2 separate regions of the Homo sapiens genome follow, and region 2 is linked to region 1. The links come from fine-mapping of genetic effects on gene expression. Tissue or cell type: whole blood. Region 1 holds a variant in brackets; the other region holds the start of a gene. All regions are shown on one strand. Distances are between the middles of the regions.

Evidence for each region. PIP is the estimated chance that this variant, and not a neighbour inherited with it, causes the effect.
Region 2: TNS1 starts here. The variant in region 1 is fine-mapped to the expression of TNS1 in whole blood (TOPMed, PIP above 0.99).

What each region holds. Positions count from the first base shown.
Region 1 is chr2:217,800,195-217,808,194 of GRCh38, forward strand. It overlaps TNS1 (tensin 1), which reads right to left. Exons shown (of 33, transcript NM_001387777.1): 32 at 7,881-7,913; 33 at 1-4,409. The coding sequence ends at 4,265. Among named protein-coding and RNA genes, the nearest start is that of DIRC3, 14 kb to the left of the region's middle. The variant C/T (reference allele first, on the strand shown) is at 3,815.
Region 2 is chr2:217,998,782-218,006,781 of GRCh38, forward strand. TNS1 (tensin 1) reads right to left here and starts at 4,214. Exons shown (of 33, transcript NM_001387777.1): 1 at 4,059-4,214. The coding sequence starts at 4,091. RefSeq lists enhancers at 2,658-3,158, 3,159-3,659, 5,400-5,499.

The DNA of each region.
Region 1 (8,000 bases):
CAAACAGCTTAACACTGATTGGAAAACAAGCTTGGGACATCCCTCTACAGTAACTCCACTGCTGGCAAGAGCCCAGGCGTGGGATATGAACAGAGGTCCTCCAACATTTTGGACATTTGAGGACAGAGGTGCCAAGAGGGACAGATCTGCCCGAGGCCCCCACCCTGCCCCTCTGGGTGAACCACTTCTCACCTGGGCTATCGCTGAGACTCCACCAATTGGTTGGCCTACAGGCCTCACCTCCCGACTCCCCTCACTGCTGGGCGACATTGAATTTGAAGTTCCATTGCCCAGCACCTCCAACCCCGACTCCCAAGTTCCCTAAAGAAATGAGCAAAACACACGCACACACATACATCCACACTTGCACATGCGCACACACGTCCTGTGTTACCACTGGCCAAGGAAACGCGAGTCTCAGGATTCCAGGGCCTGGACCTGGGGTAAAGGGCTGCTCTGGGACTCTGCCCCCCAACCTCTTGGAGGACCCCGAGTGTGGGGGCAGGATTGGGTGTCTGCCTTGACTCACAGGATCTCCCCAGGTCCTAAAGCTGAAAAAAAAAGTGGGAGAAGATCCAGGAGGCAGGGGTGGTGGACAAAAGTAGGAGTGAGACTAAAAAGTGGGAGTGAGACTAGATTTGATCACACTCACCACCCTTCTGTGCCCCCTGGACAGCATGCTCCCCTGGAGCCCCTGCACAGGCTCATCAGAACAAGGCAGAATCTCCTACTCACTAACCTCCTGAGAGCCGTTTATAGGGGGATCACACTTGTCCAGGAGGGCTGCCCCTCCTGCTTTCACACAACCACTGGCCCCACCATCCCTCTCCTGGCCAGTCTCAGAAGACCCAGGGATCCTCAAAAACCAGGGGAGAAGGAATCCTGGCCATTGGTGTCCACAGCTTTCAGAGCTACTGGAGGAGACGCTCAGATGACATGGGTCAAAGGCCTTTCCCAAACTTAGGATGTGATGTATCTGTCCCTTAAGCGCCTGGCTAAATAAGAGAGCCAGAACACCGTGATAGCAGGCTGATCAAACCGCTCACTTCCTCCCTGTTTTCCTTCGCAGGTCCCCTCTCCATTGTTTTCTCGCCCAATCCTTCCCTCTTGCTCCCTTTGGGAAAAAGCCACGTGGAGCTCACTGGGCCCCTCCCCCAGCTGAAGGGACATGACCCTCCTCTGCCCTCTTCCCTCCAGACACCCAGCTGGACAGCTGGTGGCAGCACGGGACTGAACCTGCTGGGGTCTGCGTCGCTGCGATGTCCATGACTCCCTGGCTCTTTGTTGCCCATCTTCTCCCAGACCCTTTCCCATCCCAGCCCATGTTCAAGGCCAGACAGCGCTCTCCTGGCTGACACACAGATTCAACAATAAACAACAGTAAAATAGATTCAGGGAGGGAGAAGACAGAAGAAGATAAACATTTACAAAATAATAATTAGTAAAAGTGCTTGCTTTTAAAGGAAATCTTTGGCAAGAATATACTGCAGTGCGGAGTGTTGTGTGTGCGTAGGTGTGTGCATGGGTGCACAGCCCGCCGTGACACAGAAGGGCTCTGGTGCAGGGCCCAGAGGTGGGGCCACTGTGGGGACTGGGGAACCCTTCCCCATCATTCGCCTTGAAAAGTCACACTCTCAGAAACTGACTCCTTCCGCAGGGATGCTGGGAGGGAGTTACCAGCTTTCTGGCATGAATGGGTCCTCCCGCAGGGGCACACATGGCTCAGGCTGGAGTGGAGGGGCTGGCCATGCATGCAAGGTGGGCTGTGGTGGGTGGTGAGGAAGGGAAAAGCGACCGTGAAAGCTGACCCCAGACTCAGTCCTGGGCCCCAGCCAGGCTGCTTGAAGGGTCTGATACACCGCCCAGCCTCAAGTGTGGACAGAACATCCATGCCAGGAATAGGCTCCTGGGCTCTCCAGTGGGAGATGAGATATTTACAAAGGAAGGGGATGGGAAATATCTCCTATCTTGGAAGATAATTGGGGTTTGCTAGGGAATGAGGAGAGGGGGAAACCCAGATATTTGGCTTGAATAACCCAGAAGGAAGAGCACTTTGGAGGGACTTTGGTCACCAGGCACAAGGTTTCACTCTGGGAAGCAGGGGGTGGCCAGTGGGGCCTCTGCCCCTGCTCTCCACCTTCTGCAGACACCCTCCTTTCCAACTCCCTGAAACAGAACGTCCACACTGACACAGCTCCTTGGAGGAGAAAAAATACAAAAGACACACACGCACCTATGTGTGCCATACACACCCATGTCCCCGCATGCTCACACACTCGCTCAGGCCTGCAGAGTCAGGGACAGCTCCCCACACATCCTGGGAGCTGACTGCTGGGCCCCTGGCTTGCTGAAAAGTAAGGGGGCCAAAGGCTGGGACATGTGCAACCCCTCCCAATGCTGAGCCCCACACAGTCTAGGGAAGGCCAAGGCCAGGGCAAGGAGACCCTGGCTGCTTCAAGAACAAAGGCCCCCTACACTTCAGGCTTTACTTACACATATAAAAAAGGATAGGAATTGGTTTATCCCCAAGGAAGGCAATAAAGCAATATGGAAAAACAATAAATACTTCTTGTCAATTTACCTATTCTTTTTTTAACCTTTTCTTACATTTTATTAGCTTACAGATTCTGTCAGTATGTCTCATGTATATATTATATAATATTTATATATCAGTACAATGCCTCTCTCTAGGGGACTCGCATAGGCTTAAGAATGGAGTCCTGGTGAATTTTCCATTCTGGCTTAGAGTCCTTAAATGGTGGTCAGGTGTTTTCCCAACTGTCCAGTGGACCTTAGGCCCTTTGGCCCAAGTGCAAGCCTTCTGCCCTCTGCTGCATGGGCAGCGTGGCTCAGCTAGGGAAACCAAGGCAGAAAGGGTGACAGTGAGGCTTTGGCATTGTAGGTAGGCGATGTGGTGTGCAGGCAGCAGGCCCAGGAGCTCTGCTGAGGTCAGAGGGTGCCTGCAAAAGCCAGACCCTAAAACACTTACAGAGGGGAGGATAAGGACTCCAGGTTTCTGGCCGGAGCCTCACTGAGCAGAAAGTAGGTTCCCCAGGGAGAATTCCAACACAGGGACCCTGCAGAATAGAACAGGGCTGGGCAGAGCAGCAAGACTCAATCCCCAGCCCCCAAAAAGGCATCATGCAGGTAAGCAGGTCTGAGATAAGGCTGGTCCAGGGGCATGAAACCCAATAACAAGGCTGAGAGGTGGGAGCTAAGGCAGAGTCCAGGGCCCCAGCAGGAGCAACTTGCCTTTCTTGCTGCTGAGCCACATGCCTTGGGGAAGACACCCCGAGCTCAACAGCTGCCTGTTCTGACAGATCTCTTCCTATGGATACACATATCTCTACCTCCTCAAACCAAAGCTCCAGGCTTCTGGCCAAGGCAGGACAGGGCGATGCCATTGCAGACCCTCCCACTCCTGCTGGGGTCTTTGTAGAAGAGAAGGGTCTGGCGGCACCCAGGGTCACTAGAGTGCAGGTGCAGGCACCAGGAGAGAGCCTCTGTCACCCATAGCTTGGTTGTTTGTCCCTCCCCTGCTGCACTGCCACCACCAACCCTAATCTTTGGACAGTATGCATGTGTGTCTACAAACACATGGGACAAGGACAAGCCGAGCTGTTTATAATTCGAGTGGATAAAGGCAGATCTAGATCAATGTGTGAGGATGTGGGTGCAGACACACACCCACACGACAATATAGTGGAGGCACAGCAAAGAGACCTGAGGTGCCTTGGGTCTGAGATACTTTCAAGCAAACAAGTTCTTCCACTTGATGTCCCACGGTGGCTCTGTTTGGTTTGACAACCTACCC[C/T]ACAGGTGGCCAGAAAAAGATTCTCCCAGCTTGATTTCCCCTTGCAAAGCAGTTGAGTTAGGGAGACAGAGCTTTTCCATTCCCCCAAAAAATGTGGATTCCCAAGGAGGTTTGTTCCTTCTCTTTTGAGGACATCCATCTTCTTAGGGGAGGGAGGGGGTGTTAGGTGGACCTGGTTAGTTTTGGAGGCTTTGGGTTTTTGCAGTTTCCATCTACCCAGGGGAATCCAAGTTCTTCTCCTCCATCTTTCTCTCTCTCTCTCTCTCTCTCTCTCTCTCTCTTTTCCCCCTCCCCTCTGCAATTCACTTCCCTCTCCCCACGTTGCACTTTCTTCTCTCCTCCGAAATTGGCCCAAAGTCCTCCTTCTGGGTTCAAGAGTGGTCAGGATTCATGGGTCCCCTCCCCACAAGCCCCTTCCCCATGGCACTGGCCCTGGGCAAGGGGCAGGGTTCATCTCTTTTGGCCGGCATTCAGCATGACCTTGGAGACGAAGTTGACGATGGCAGAGGCCGGCTGGTTGGGGTCAAGCTCAGCAAAGAGGTGGCAGGCGTTGTCCGTGGTGCTGCCCTGCTTCCGGGCCACGAAGCCGAAGAGCCTGCAGGCGGGAGAGGGCAACGGGCATGAGGGAAGGGCAAGTGGAACCCCAGGAGGTGGACAGCAGCCCAGGTGAGCAAGCTGGTCTCAGGCCAACCTCTCTTCCCCATCCCTCCAGCAGGCCTCAGCATCAGGGACTCAGAGAGGTGCAGAAGAGAATCCTCTGTGCACTCCCCTGACCACAAGCCAAGTCCTAGAGACAGTGTCCCACCTTGTTTAAGGGTGGGCAGAAATCCCCTTTGAAGGGGTGCGAGGGGAGCTGCAGAGGATTGACAAGGCTGGATAGTGAGGGGTGGGGAGGAGACCAAAATAAAATGGGAACATTCCTAGACAGGCCTCTCCCCGCCCATCCCAGCCCTACCCCTACTGACTGTTCTTACACACAACACATATGCCAATCAGGAAAGTGCTGTCTGCCTGCAAACGGCTCAGCCTCCTCAGACACCACAAGGTCAGGGAGACAAAGGTCAAGTAGCTCACACCCCTCCACACACACACACTTATTCTTCCTGGGCTCAAGAACCTTGGAAGCCAGAAAATAAAAGGGAAGGTGGACCCCACACCCGTTCCCCACCCCCACCCGCAGGACTGGAGTGACCCAGCATTCTCTTCGCAAAACAGAGTTAAAAATATGAGGGCAGAGAACAGAATGTGAGCTCAGGTCCCCTCCCAGCCAGCATGTTGCTAATTAGAGCGAGATGGGGAAATGAGGACAGCTGGAGATTCCTATGAAAACCCCTCTCCCTACCGCAGGACCACGGCAGCTGAAGTTAGCAAAGGGGGATTCTGCTGGTCCCTGTGTGCCTGTGTGTACAAACCACCACACACATGCACCACACACATACACACCATCACACACACCACCACACACACCACACACACCACACACACACCACACACACCACCACACACACCACACACACCACACACACCACACACACCACCACACACCACACACACCACCACACACACCACACACACAACACACACCACCACACACCACACACACCACACACATACACACCATCACACCCACACACATCACACACACACAACACACATATCACCACACACATACACACCATCACACACATCACCACATGCATACACCACACACACACCACTGCACACACCACACATACCACCACACATACACACCACACACCACCACACACACATACACCACACACACACAAACCATGCATACATACATATACAGACCACACACATACACAACATATACACACCACACACAACACGCAAACACAACATATACACACACCACACACACACACACACACACACACATAATCCAGCATTTCCTACAGCTCTGCTCCTCCAGTCTTGTTTCAGGGGCCAGGAGCAACAGGGCCAAAGGCCTGGGGTAATGCCCAGGTGGTGGGGGAGCTGGGGTCCACAGGGCATCCCCCAGCACCTCCCTTTCCCAGCTGGCTCAGACCATGAGCAGGGGTGGGGGTGATCCTGGCAGAGGGAGGAAGCATGCCAGCCCTGGCTGCGGGTGTCTACCAGGATGGAGACCCGGCAACTGCACCTGACTGGAGCACCGAGCCTGCCCTCCCCTGATATTTCTTTCAGCTGTGGCTTCCAGGCTCCCGCAATAGCCCAGTCCTGTCATCTGCCACAAGGAATAGATCCAGGCAAGAAGCCTCAGCCCGCAAGGGCAGGAGGAAGCGCTTGCAAGATCCCAAGATCTAACATCTCCTTGAATTTTGCACATGAGATCCCTGGCTGGCCTCACCTCGTCCCTGTCATGATTCCCTGTTAGCCCACTGCCCTGCTTGGCCTCTCCCTGTGGCCTCTGCCCCACCCATCAAAGCTTCTTCAGCAGGAGGCTCAACTCAAAACCAGCTCCTGAAGGAGGAAAAGAGGGATTTCCAGGCTTGGGGGCCCAGTTCCCTTCTGTCCCTGACCTTCTTCCCTCGCAGGGCCCTGTGGTGAGTGAGCACAAGCCCCTTCAAACAGGAAGTTCCAGCCTGCTGCCTTGGCCAGCAGAGACACGGGAAATGCAGGAACTCAAAGCACTGATGACCCTATGAAGCCTGGACAAGGCTGAACCCCACCATCCCACATGGCCTCTCCTAAGCTACCATCACTGACCATGTGATAGACTAGTCAGTCCATTCATTCGGACTGAGGCATTCTCACTAGCCTCCTCCTGCCTCTGCTCTTCCAGCCTCCATTCTCTCATTTCTTCACTCAACAAATATATACCACCTCCCCATGTGTCAGACATGGCCCTTCCCTTGGGGAGCTTGCAGGCTGGTGGCCATGAGGCCCCTCCCCTGAAATAGCCCCTCCTACTCCCATTCTCATTTTGACCTGTCCAAATTGAACCTGTCTTTGAAGACCCGTCCTTAAATATCTGCTCTTTCCACCTCTCTGAGGTGCTGATGTGTTCTCCTGCATGAGCTCCCCAGACGTAAGCTGAACTCTCTTGCTGCCTCTCCCTCCCTTGCAACTGTCATTTTTTTAACACTGAACGTTTTGTTTTTCTAAAGCAACCTTATATGAAGTCTGCATATATAAAGGTGAAAGCAGTATTTTACAGCTATAAACAGCAATCCAAAAGCACGACATTTACCTATTATAAAGTCAATCAGTGAGGATAATAGGGCTGTTGGAATAATCCTGACAAAGTGAAAAGTAGATGACAGATCATGGTGATAGTCTCATGTCAGCTTCAGACCCCAGGTTATGCCTATATTTTGTTTGGTTTTGTGATTGTGAAAAAACCCTAGTTACTGCTGATAGACAACTGCAAGGAGCAGCAGAGCTTTCCCTCTCTTCTGTACATCAGGTACAATCCAAGGATGCTAGGATCCTTGGAATACAGTTTGAAAATCACAGAAGCATCTTAGTGCTATTTAGACATCTGTCTTATCTGCTGTGCCAATGGGCCTCCTGAGGGCAGGGTCAGAGACCCAGGCAGGATCTGAGTCCCTTGGAGGCCCCTAGGACATGTCTGCTGGATGGAGGAATCCACCCGAAGGTCCCAGGGCCATCCCCAGAATTCAGACTTTCTGGGCTCCCACATTCTGATAAGGCTGATTTGCTCGGCCACAAGACTCACAGGAAAGCCCACCAAAAAAGCAAGAGCAGAAATAAAGGCAGCTAGAATTGGGGCAGAAAAGATCATGTAAGCAATCTCTGACCCATTTCCATTGCTTCTAATAAGACTGTTTTCTGTCCACTTCCTGCCATCCCTGCTGCTTCTAACCCTGGGAGAGTGAAGGCAGCTGGACCAGACGCTGGGCCTCTGGCCTCGAGGCAGGACAAGGCAAAAGGCCTGGAAGCCTGGTCAAGCTTCACTCGGAAGCTGAGTGACCTTGGCACAAAGGTTTTTGCTGCTCTTTCCCTACCCCCAGCCCTGGTTTCTAAATGTGCCCCGTGCTTCCCTCACTGTGAAGTACAAAGGCCAGCCTGCTGGGCAGGGGTAAGAAGTCACACTTACTTAGCAGGGGCACCACCCTCTGTTTTCATCCACCTGTGGAGAGAAAGTGGGCTCAGGGTAAATCATCGTACTTTCTCCCTAGAGCCCAGCCCCACCCATGCCCAGACCCTCTGCAGGAAG
Region 2 (8,000 bases), 200 kb after region 1:
GACCACTGTGCCTGGCCAGATTCATCTTTAGATCTAGTTTAAAATTCACCTCCCGAGGAGTCTTTCCTGACACCTTCTCCCTACAGTCCAGGTTAGGTCCCCCTTACATCCCCCAGAGGTTCCCTCTTGGTAACACCCATCCTGCTTGCAATCATGTGCCAGTATGTGCAAGCAGCTTGAAGAGAGCAGGCCCTCCATAATAATCCGTGAAAAGGATGGAAAGCTGCGTGGGGGGTGTGGTTAGAAAGCCAAATGATGGGATGCTTCTTCCATCACACGACCTCCCCAACACCATGCCCTGACCCTGGGCTGCCCGCCACAGTCCTCTTCGCTGACTTAGGGCTCATGCGTCATTCTCAGGGCTTGATTCCCACGGACCCCACATGTCCTGCCCCAAAGCATTCCCAGAATGGAGAAGCCTGGCAGAGGATGCAGCAGATGGGGTTGGAGTCTTGACTCTGACTTGCTGGGTAGCCTTGAAAATGTGCCATCCTACAAGAAGCACTAACATTTCTTGAGCTCTTACATGTGAGAGACACTTTTCTAAATGTATGTGTGGATTAGCTCATTCAAAACCGAACAACCCTATAGGTAGGTGGGGAAACCAAAGCACAGAGATGTGAAACTACTTGCCTATGGTCACACAGCTGTCAAGTGACAGGCCCGGGATCCAGCCCAGGCATTGCACTCTCGGCCAGCATGCTACACTTCCTTTCAACACTGCAGAATAAAAGGGCAGTGCTCTTCCCAATTTTGTGCCTCACACATTACTTTGCAAAACTTTGCAAAAGGAGAGTCTTATTTCAGACCCTGGTGATTCTCATGCAGCCCAGCCTACCTCCCAAACCCACAGTCAGGAGGCCCTTACAGGTCAACCAAACTAGAGAGAACGAGTTCAGGACCAAAGAGTCAGATTGATGTCTGCATGACCGGAATTGTGCACAAGGAATCCAGAGCTCATGAGGACCCTTCTGTCAAAAATGTGTGCTTAGCACTGGGCAGGACACCAACTCCAGGAAACAAAATACATCATCGTCTGCAGCTGGATGTGGCCTTAGAGAATAGAGCCCACATTTCAGTGAGGTCCAGAAAAGTCGAGTGACCAGCTTGAGACCACTTAGCTGGCTCAGGGCAGAGCCAAAGCTGCACTTGACCCCCAGCCCCTGCCTGGTGGCTCTTTCAGCCTCACCCTGAGCCCCTTCCCAGTTCCTGAGGACCAGTGAGTCCCTCTGGAAGGAAGGGCCTCCACCTCTAACTCCTCCAGCACAACATCAAAAAGCCTCAATTGCTAGGCATGCAATTATTTTCTAAATAAACCGTACTTGAATATGTAATAGCAAATGGGAGCACTTGATGAGAAAATCAAGTTATGCATAATAAATAGCTCTGCTCCTCAGCTAATAAAGTGATTTTTATTCCTAGGACTTGTTAAAACTATGCACTACAGATATATTACTTCTTAGATGACACAATTGCAGCTTTCCCCATACAGGAACATGTGAACCAATAGATGCAAGCACTCACTCTAGGGCACAAGAACTATCTCAGTCACTTCCTGGCCTCAGAGTAGCTGGTCAGAGTCCCTGGGCAGTCAGCCCAGGAGTAGAGCCCAAGGAGTAGAGCCCTGTCCCATGACACCATTCCCAGGGAGATCCTCCCCCAGCATCAGGTCTGGGATACAGAGGATCCCAAGAACCAGGCAGGAGACTGTGGAGTGGGAAAGGGGCCAGCATTTGCTGAGCACCTACTGCATGCCTACATACCTGATCTTTTGATATCTATTGTCTCTTTCCCCACCCTAGCCATACAAGGAGTATATTATTCTCTGCACTTTACAGATCAAGAAATTGAGGCTCATGAAGGGAACTGCTTTACCAAGCCTGCCCATACCAAACGATGGAAATAGGGTTTGAGCCTAGTCCTATCTGGTGCCAGGACTGCTTCCTCTGTCCAGTCCCTACTGCCCCAGTCTCTGGCCCATCCTGGCCATGGGCATCACAGCCAGCCTAGAAAGGATGGGGACTAGGAGAGGAGAGGAAAAGGAGACAGGGGAGGGACACAGGCTTTTCTAGTCTTAAAGACACTCAAGGCCAGGCGCAGTGGCTCACACCTATAATCCCAGCACTTTGGGAGGCTGAGACGGGAGGATCACTTGAGGTCAGGAGTTCGAGGCCAGCCTGGCCAACACGATGAAACCCCATCTCTACTAAAAATATAAAAAATTAGCTGGACATGTTGGCACGCACTTGTAGTCCCAGCTACTCGGGAGGCTGAGGCAGGAGAATTGCTTGGACCCAGGAGGTAGAGGTTATAGTGAGCCAAGATCATGCCATTGCACTCCAGCCTGGGTGACAGAGTGAGACTCCATCTCAATTAAAAAAAAAATGAATAAATAAAAATAAAGACACTCAAGGAAGCAGCACTCACAGCTGCCTTGGTCCCCAGACTCTTCCCCTTACTCTCAGGGAGGGTATAACACCCATAGGGCACTCTACCTGCCAGGCACTGCCCTGGGGAATTGGATACAAAATTTCATCCCTACCTCTCTGTACCCTGTTTCTCTGCAATCCTCATTTCACCAACGGGAAAGCAGAGGCTCACCAGGATGAGGCACTTTTCCCAGTATCAGTCAGCTGAAGGGATCTATAGAGCCCTCTCTCCAGTCACAGCAGCTCGTCACCCCTGGAGGTCTACCTGCCATCCTTCTTGTGTCACCCCTGGACGTCTACCTGCCATCCTTCTTGCTGCAGAGCTCCCTCCTGCCTACCTCTGTCCTCAGCACAGAGACGAACCTGGCCAAGGCTCCCATTTCCCAGATGTCAACACCAGCCCAGTAAACCACAAATGCATCCTGTGTGCAGGCCTCCCCAGTCACTCTCAATCTATTAATCCAATCCATCCCAGCACCCCAGCCCAACATGCCACCCAAACCGCCTCATTCCAGGCCCCCTCCCCCACCCTTTCTTTCTTTGCCCAGAGGACACCTGGCTGCCCGAGTTTGTGTTCCCACAACTGCCCCCAGCATGGGCTTGCCTGGGCCAAGAGGGCCCTCCCGAGGACTGGCCAGAACAAGGAAAGGGACAGGAAAGGCCACATCTGGATCACAGCCCTGAAGCCCCCTCCCCCAAACCAGCCATCACTCTCTCAGAGCCCAACAGTAACCTCAGCCAGGGACGACTTCCTCACCCTCCTGACCCCATGCATGCCTTTGCCTGGCCAAGACAGCCCCACAGGAGCCCCTCTGAGGAAGGGGTCCTCTCCTCCTCTGACCCCCAGCCCTTCTGCAGCAGGCAGCCCTCTCCCATCCCCCTTTACCCAGGAGCCTCAGCCCAGGTCTGGCCTTAAGACTTTTAACCTTCACCACGTGGCCCCCAGGCCTCTCTGCTGGCCCCCCTGGCATCCCCATCCTGAAACCCACCTCCCTGAACCTGGAGCCAAGAGAGAAAGGGGGAAGAGCGGGCCATGGCTCCCTCCTCCAGGATGGAGAGGTCTTGGTAGCAGGGGAGGGCTGTGGAGGAAGGGATGGCAGTGGGTGGAAGCTGAAACTGGGTGTAGAAGGAATAAAAGGGATGGACTCTGAGAATTCTCCCACAGCCCAGCTCTTCCAGACTTAATATTTTGGACTACTATTCTTTGCTCCCCAGCCCCACCACTGCCTCCTCCTCAAGATCTTGGGCTCAGCAACTGAGGGGGGGCGGTGAAGAATTTTCACCCCATTGTAGGATGCAAGTCGGGAGGAAAGGCTCTAAAGAGAAGCAAACTTCTCTGTGGCCTCCTTCCACTTACAGCTCTGGGACTCCATTGGGGGGTGGGGGGGTGGGGCAGGGGATGTACTGACCCGGGACCCTGGGCCTGGGCCCTGTTGGTGGGGAAAGTCTTCCGGCTGAGGGTTGCTCAAGTCAGTCTGTCCTTCTGTAGGTCAGAGACAGAAAGGCCCCTCCTTCAAGACTGACACCCCCCGACCCCGGGCTCTCAGCAAAAGGATAAGGTGGCAGGGGCCGGTGGGGGGCGGGGGGTTTGAGGAAGAGTAACGTCGCAGCTAAAGCAGCCAGACCTACCCAGAGCATGCAGGACAGACAGATCCACGTCATCTTTGCTGGGTCCCGTCACTGAGGCACGCCCAGGGCCTGTGAAGAGCCCCTGAAGCTAGAGTCCCCGCGGCGCTGGCAGAAGGGCTCTCTGAGTCCGCGGCTGCTCCGGCTCCGCCAGCATCTGCTGGGCCTCTCGCCCTGCTGCCTCCAGCTCACCCTCCCTCCTCCTCCTCCTCCCCCCACTCCACCCCTCGTCCCAGCCTCCTCTCTCCTCCCTCCTCCCAGGCTCCACCGGTGGCCTTGAGGGTCAGGAACCCTGCTTTGCAGGGGGTGTAAAGGGGACAGGGAAAAGGGAAAGCTACCAGAGGCAGGGCCCCCCCAGGCCGTGCCCCCCACCCCCGGACACACAACCCCTGTGTGCCACCAAGGCTCCTCAGTCTTCTGATCTGGTGCTGGTAGGCCTGGAGTCCTCCCTCCTCACTGCAGACCCCCGCCCCTGGCAAACCAGCCTGGGGGCCTTCACTCCTGGAACCCTCCAGACCACTGATGGATGAACAGACAGCCCCAGGCCCACACAATCAGCACACTCAGGGTGCCTTGGCCCCTCCCCTTCTCTGAGTACCCGTGCCTGCCTTCCTGGCCTCCTCGGAACACACATGCATTTGCACACACAGACTGGGACAGACTCTGGTGCCCACGCGCCAAGCTCAGAGCCCAGGACAGGCCTTAACACAGAAGAAATAGGGCCCGAGACTGGGGAAGAATGGCCCTGCCCCCAGGCTGTGGGTTTCATTCCAATTTTTTTCCTATTTCTTTTTTTTTCCCCCTTCTTTCTTTCTTTCCTGCAAACATCTGTCCCAGCCTTTCCTGCCCTTCTGAAAGGGAGCCCCGCTCCAGGCTCCCGCGAGAGTGTGTTTTTCTTGACTGTACCCGGGGCCAACATTTGGTTTGCATTTCCCCACTTCCTCCCCCTCCTCCCCTCTCCCCCTCCCTGGGCCCAGTTCTCCCCTCCCACCATTCCACAGGCCTATTTCTTCCCCTCAGTGTCCCCTGCCCACCAGCCCTCCCCTCCCCTCGCCCCCACCTCTGCCCAGGGACAATTGTTGGGGGTCTAGAGGGTGGAAAGGAGGCTGGGTCAAAACCCAAAAGTATTCCCACGGAGCACTAAGGGGGAATCCAGCAAAGTCTGCCCCAGGCCTTCATTGTCTGGAACCACCACGTTCCCCTCCAAAAAAAACCCTTCCTCTTTGAGCTCTGGCCTTGGCTGGACCAACTGAGGGTGGGTGGGGGCCAGTGAATCACCCGCTCTGTTCTTTGGAGCTGTCCAGGAGAAGGAGGGAGGGCTCAGCCCCACACCCTCCTGTGGACACACACACACACAAGGACACAGTCCAACTCACGTCAACACATAAGAGCCCTCCCAGAGTAGGCACTTGGAGACCTCGTTCCTAGACTGAGTCACTTAGCAAGAAAAGTTCTCTTGCCTGGCCTCCTATGCACACTGTGCTATACATGCCCTGGGGCCACATGCACGAAGGGTTACAGATCCCCTGCCTCCCCCCCCCACTCACCCAAGGCCATGCCATGCCGCTGTCTGTCAGCACCACATACCGTGCAACTACCAGCCTCCTCTTTCACAGGGATCTGCCCAGCCACTTGTGCCAACTCCCAGCCCAGGGACCACCCAAGACATCTACCTGGGAAACCCCAGAATGAAGGGGAAACACTGACTCTTCATCTGAAAAAAAGACTGCAGTATTCAGATACACAGGTTGTCCACAGCACAAGGGACTAACCATCTATTGTTTGGTGGTTCTGAGAAGTCAGGGGAGGACACTGAAGTGAAGTGTCAATTTCCAGCCCTTCCTAAAGCAGGTACCTGAGTGAAGAGTCTTTGTTCCGGTAGAGGAGTCAGGGTCCTCTCTCCATACTTCTCCAAGTCCTCCAGAGCTCTGGGGCTGGGAAAGATCCTGCCTCTAGTGTCCTTCCCTGCCAGGATCACAATGTCCCTCTGGACCCCCTACTCTAAGCCTCCTGGGGCTTCACTGACATTTTAGCCAACGCTGAAATGAACCAGTGTTCCACATGCAGTTGGCCCTGCAGTCACAGCTGGGGATGTCCATAGACAGAAACCTCTGCAAACCCTCCCGTCTCCCCTGGCTGGAGCACCAGGCAAGCAAAGGGGAGTGGTCTTCAGGAGGCCTCTCTGAGAGCCCCTGAGCCCCTCCTCAGCCACTATCACCAGCTCTGCCAGGCTGCCCTTGTCCCCTGACAAGTTCAAGCCTTCAGCCAGCTAAGCCCTGACATCCCAGTGCCCACTCACACCAAGCTCCCCGCTGCCTGCTCCCACAGCCCTTCACTGCTGGCGTCACTGAAGACGCCTCCAGGCAGCTTTCTCTGGAGTTCTGAGAAGTCACCTTGGGGCTTCCCAGAAATGCTGGAAAATCAAACCAAAAACCAAGTCACAGTGACACCAACTTGTCTGGCCTCCTACACAGCCCGAGGAGGCCCTGCTGCTTCCCCAGACTCCTCAGCTAGGACTGTGAATGGAAGTAGGGGACCCTAGTGCTGGGGGTTCCCTTGGAGAAACCCTCCCTCCAGAATACCCCCATCCCTCTTCTCCAAGCCTATGGGGTCTCTCCTGTATATTAATCGCTTATCATCAAGATGTCCTTCCTGCTAATTAACCACCATTTTCCCTGTTGAATGTTAAACTCTGCCGACTGAGGTGTCTCTAACTGTGTGTAATGACCCTGTTCCAGGCTTGTCAGCCTTTATTCCTCCTTCACAGCCTGGTGTCTCCACCCCAACCCACACACGGGCAAGGACGTGTCCTGTGTTTTGTATCCCCAGAGCCTGGCATACAGCAGGCACCAGACATGGTTGAAGAATGACTCAATCACTCAATCAATTAGTCAATGGATCCTAACATATTTTCCTACTGTAAGCATTCACTGCCTCCTTCCCAAACCTTCCTTCTTTTCCCTTCAAAAGGGCCTCAGGCAGCCCTGCCTGTACACTTTTGCCCACAATTTCAGTGCCACCCTATCTGCAGCCACCTCTGCCTGCTGCCAATGCCCCATTCCCAAGCTCTAGCCAGCTGCAGACTCTCCGCAGGCCTGGATGGTTTCATTCATCTTGGGATCCCCACCCTGTGCCCAGACCCCTGTCTCACACACAGCAGACATGGAGTACACACTGGAGGACTGGCTGGGGCTCTACACTGGCATCCCAGAAGCCTCAGAACCCAGCCCCAACCCTGTGCCATCCCCATTTCTGCCTTCCCGCTGCATGCGGAGACCTCCCTCCGCTCATCCCTCCAGCCCCCTGCTCAGCAGCCAGCTGAAGAAACAGAGTCAGGTCTGTGGGCTGTGGTGCTGGCCCTGGGGCTGGAGGAGGGTGGAGCCAAGGCAGAAGGAAGGGTGAGTGTGGTCAGGAATGAGCTAATGGCCTTAGAGCCTGAGCCTGGCAGGCCCCTCCCTGGGCCTCAGTTTCCTTTACCTGTAGAATAACAGGACTGATGGCCTCCAAGGTCCCTTCCAGCTCCACCTTCTGCGATGACACGAGTTTCCCAGGCCAAGGCCCCAGCCCCATCCAATTCACTCTTCCTTTCCTTTGACTCTTGTCCACCAAAATATTCTTACTGATGTCCACCCCTCTCCTACCAGGGCGTTAAGCCTTTCCTTTGTCACCACTGGTCACAGCATCTGAAGGTAACAGAGCATTTTAAAGCTGGAAAGGTCTTCAAGCTCAGCTGCCCAGGGGTCACGGTAACAGCCTTTGGGGGTCACCTAGAAGTTCAATGAGGGGAGCGGGCAAGGGGTCACAAGGGCCTGGTGAGGACAGGCCCCAGCTGAGGGGGATGCCCACTCCTTGGTTCCCCACTACAGCATGCAGCAACACAAGCCCACATCTCCACATGTTTTGATCTGCCATAGAACCCTCAACTCCATATTTTATATAAAATAT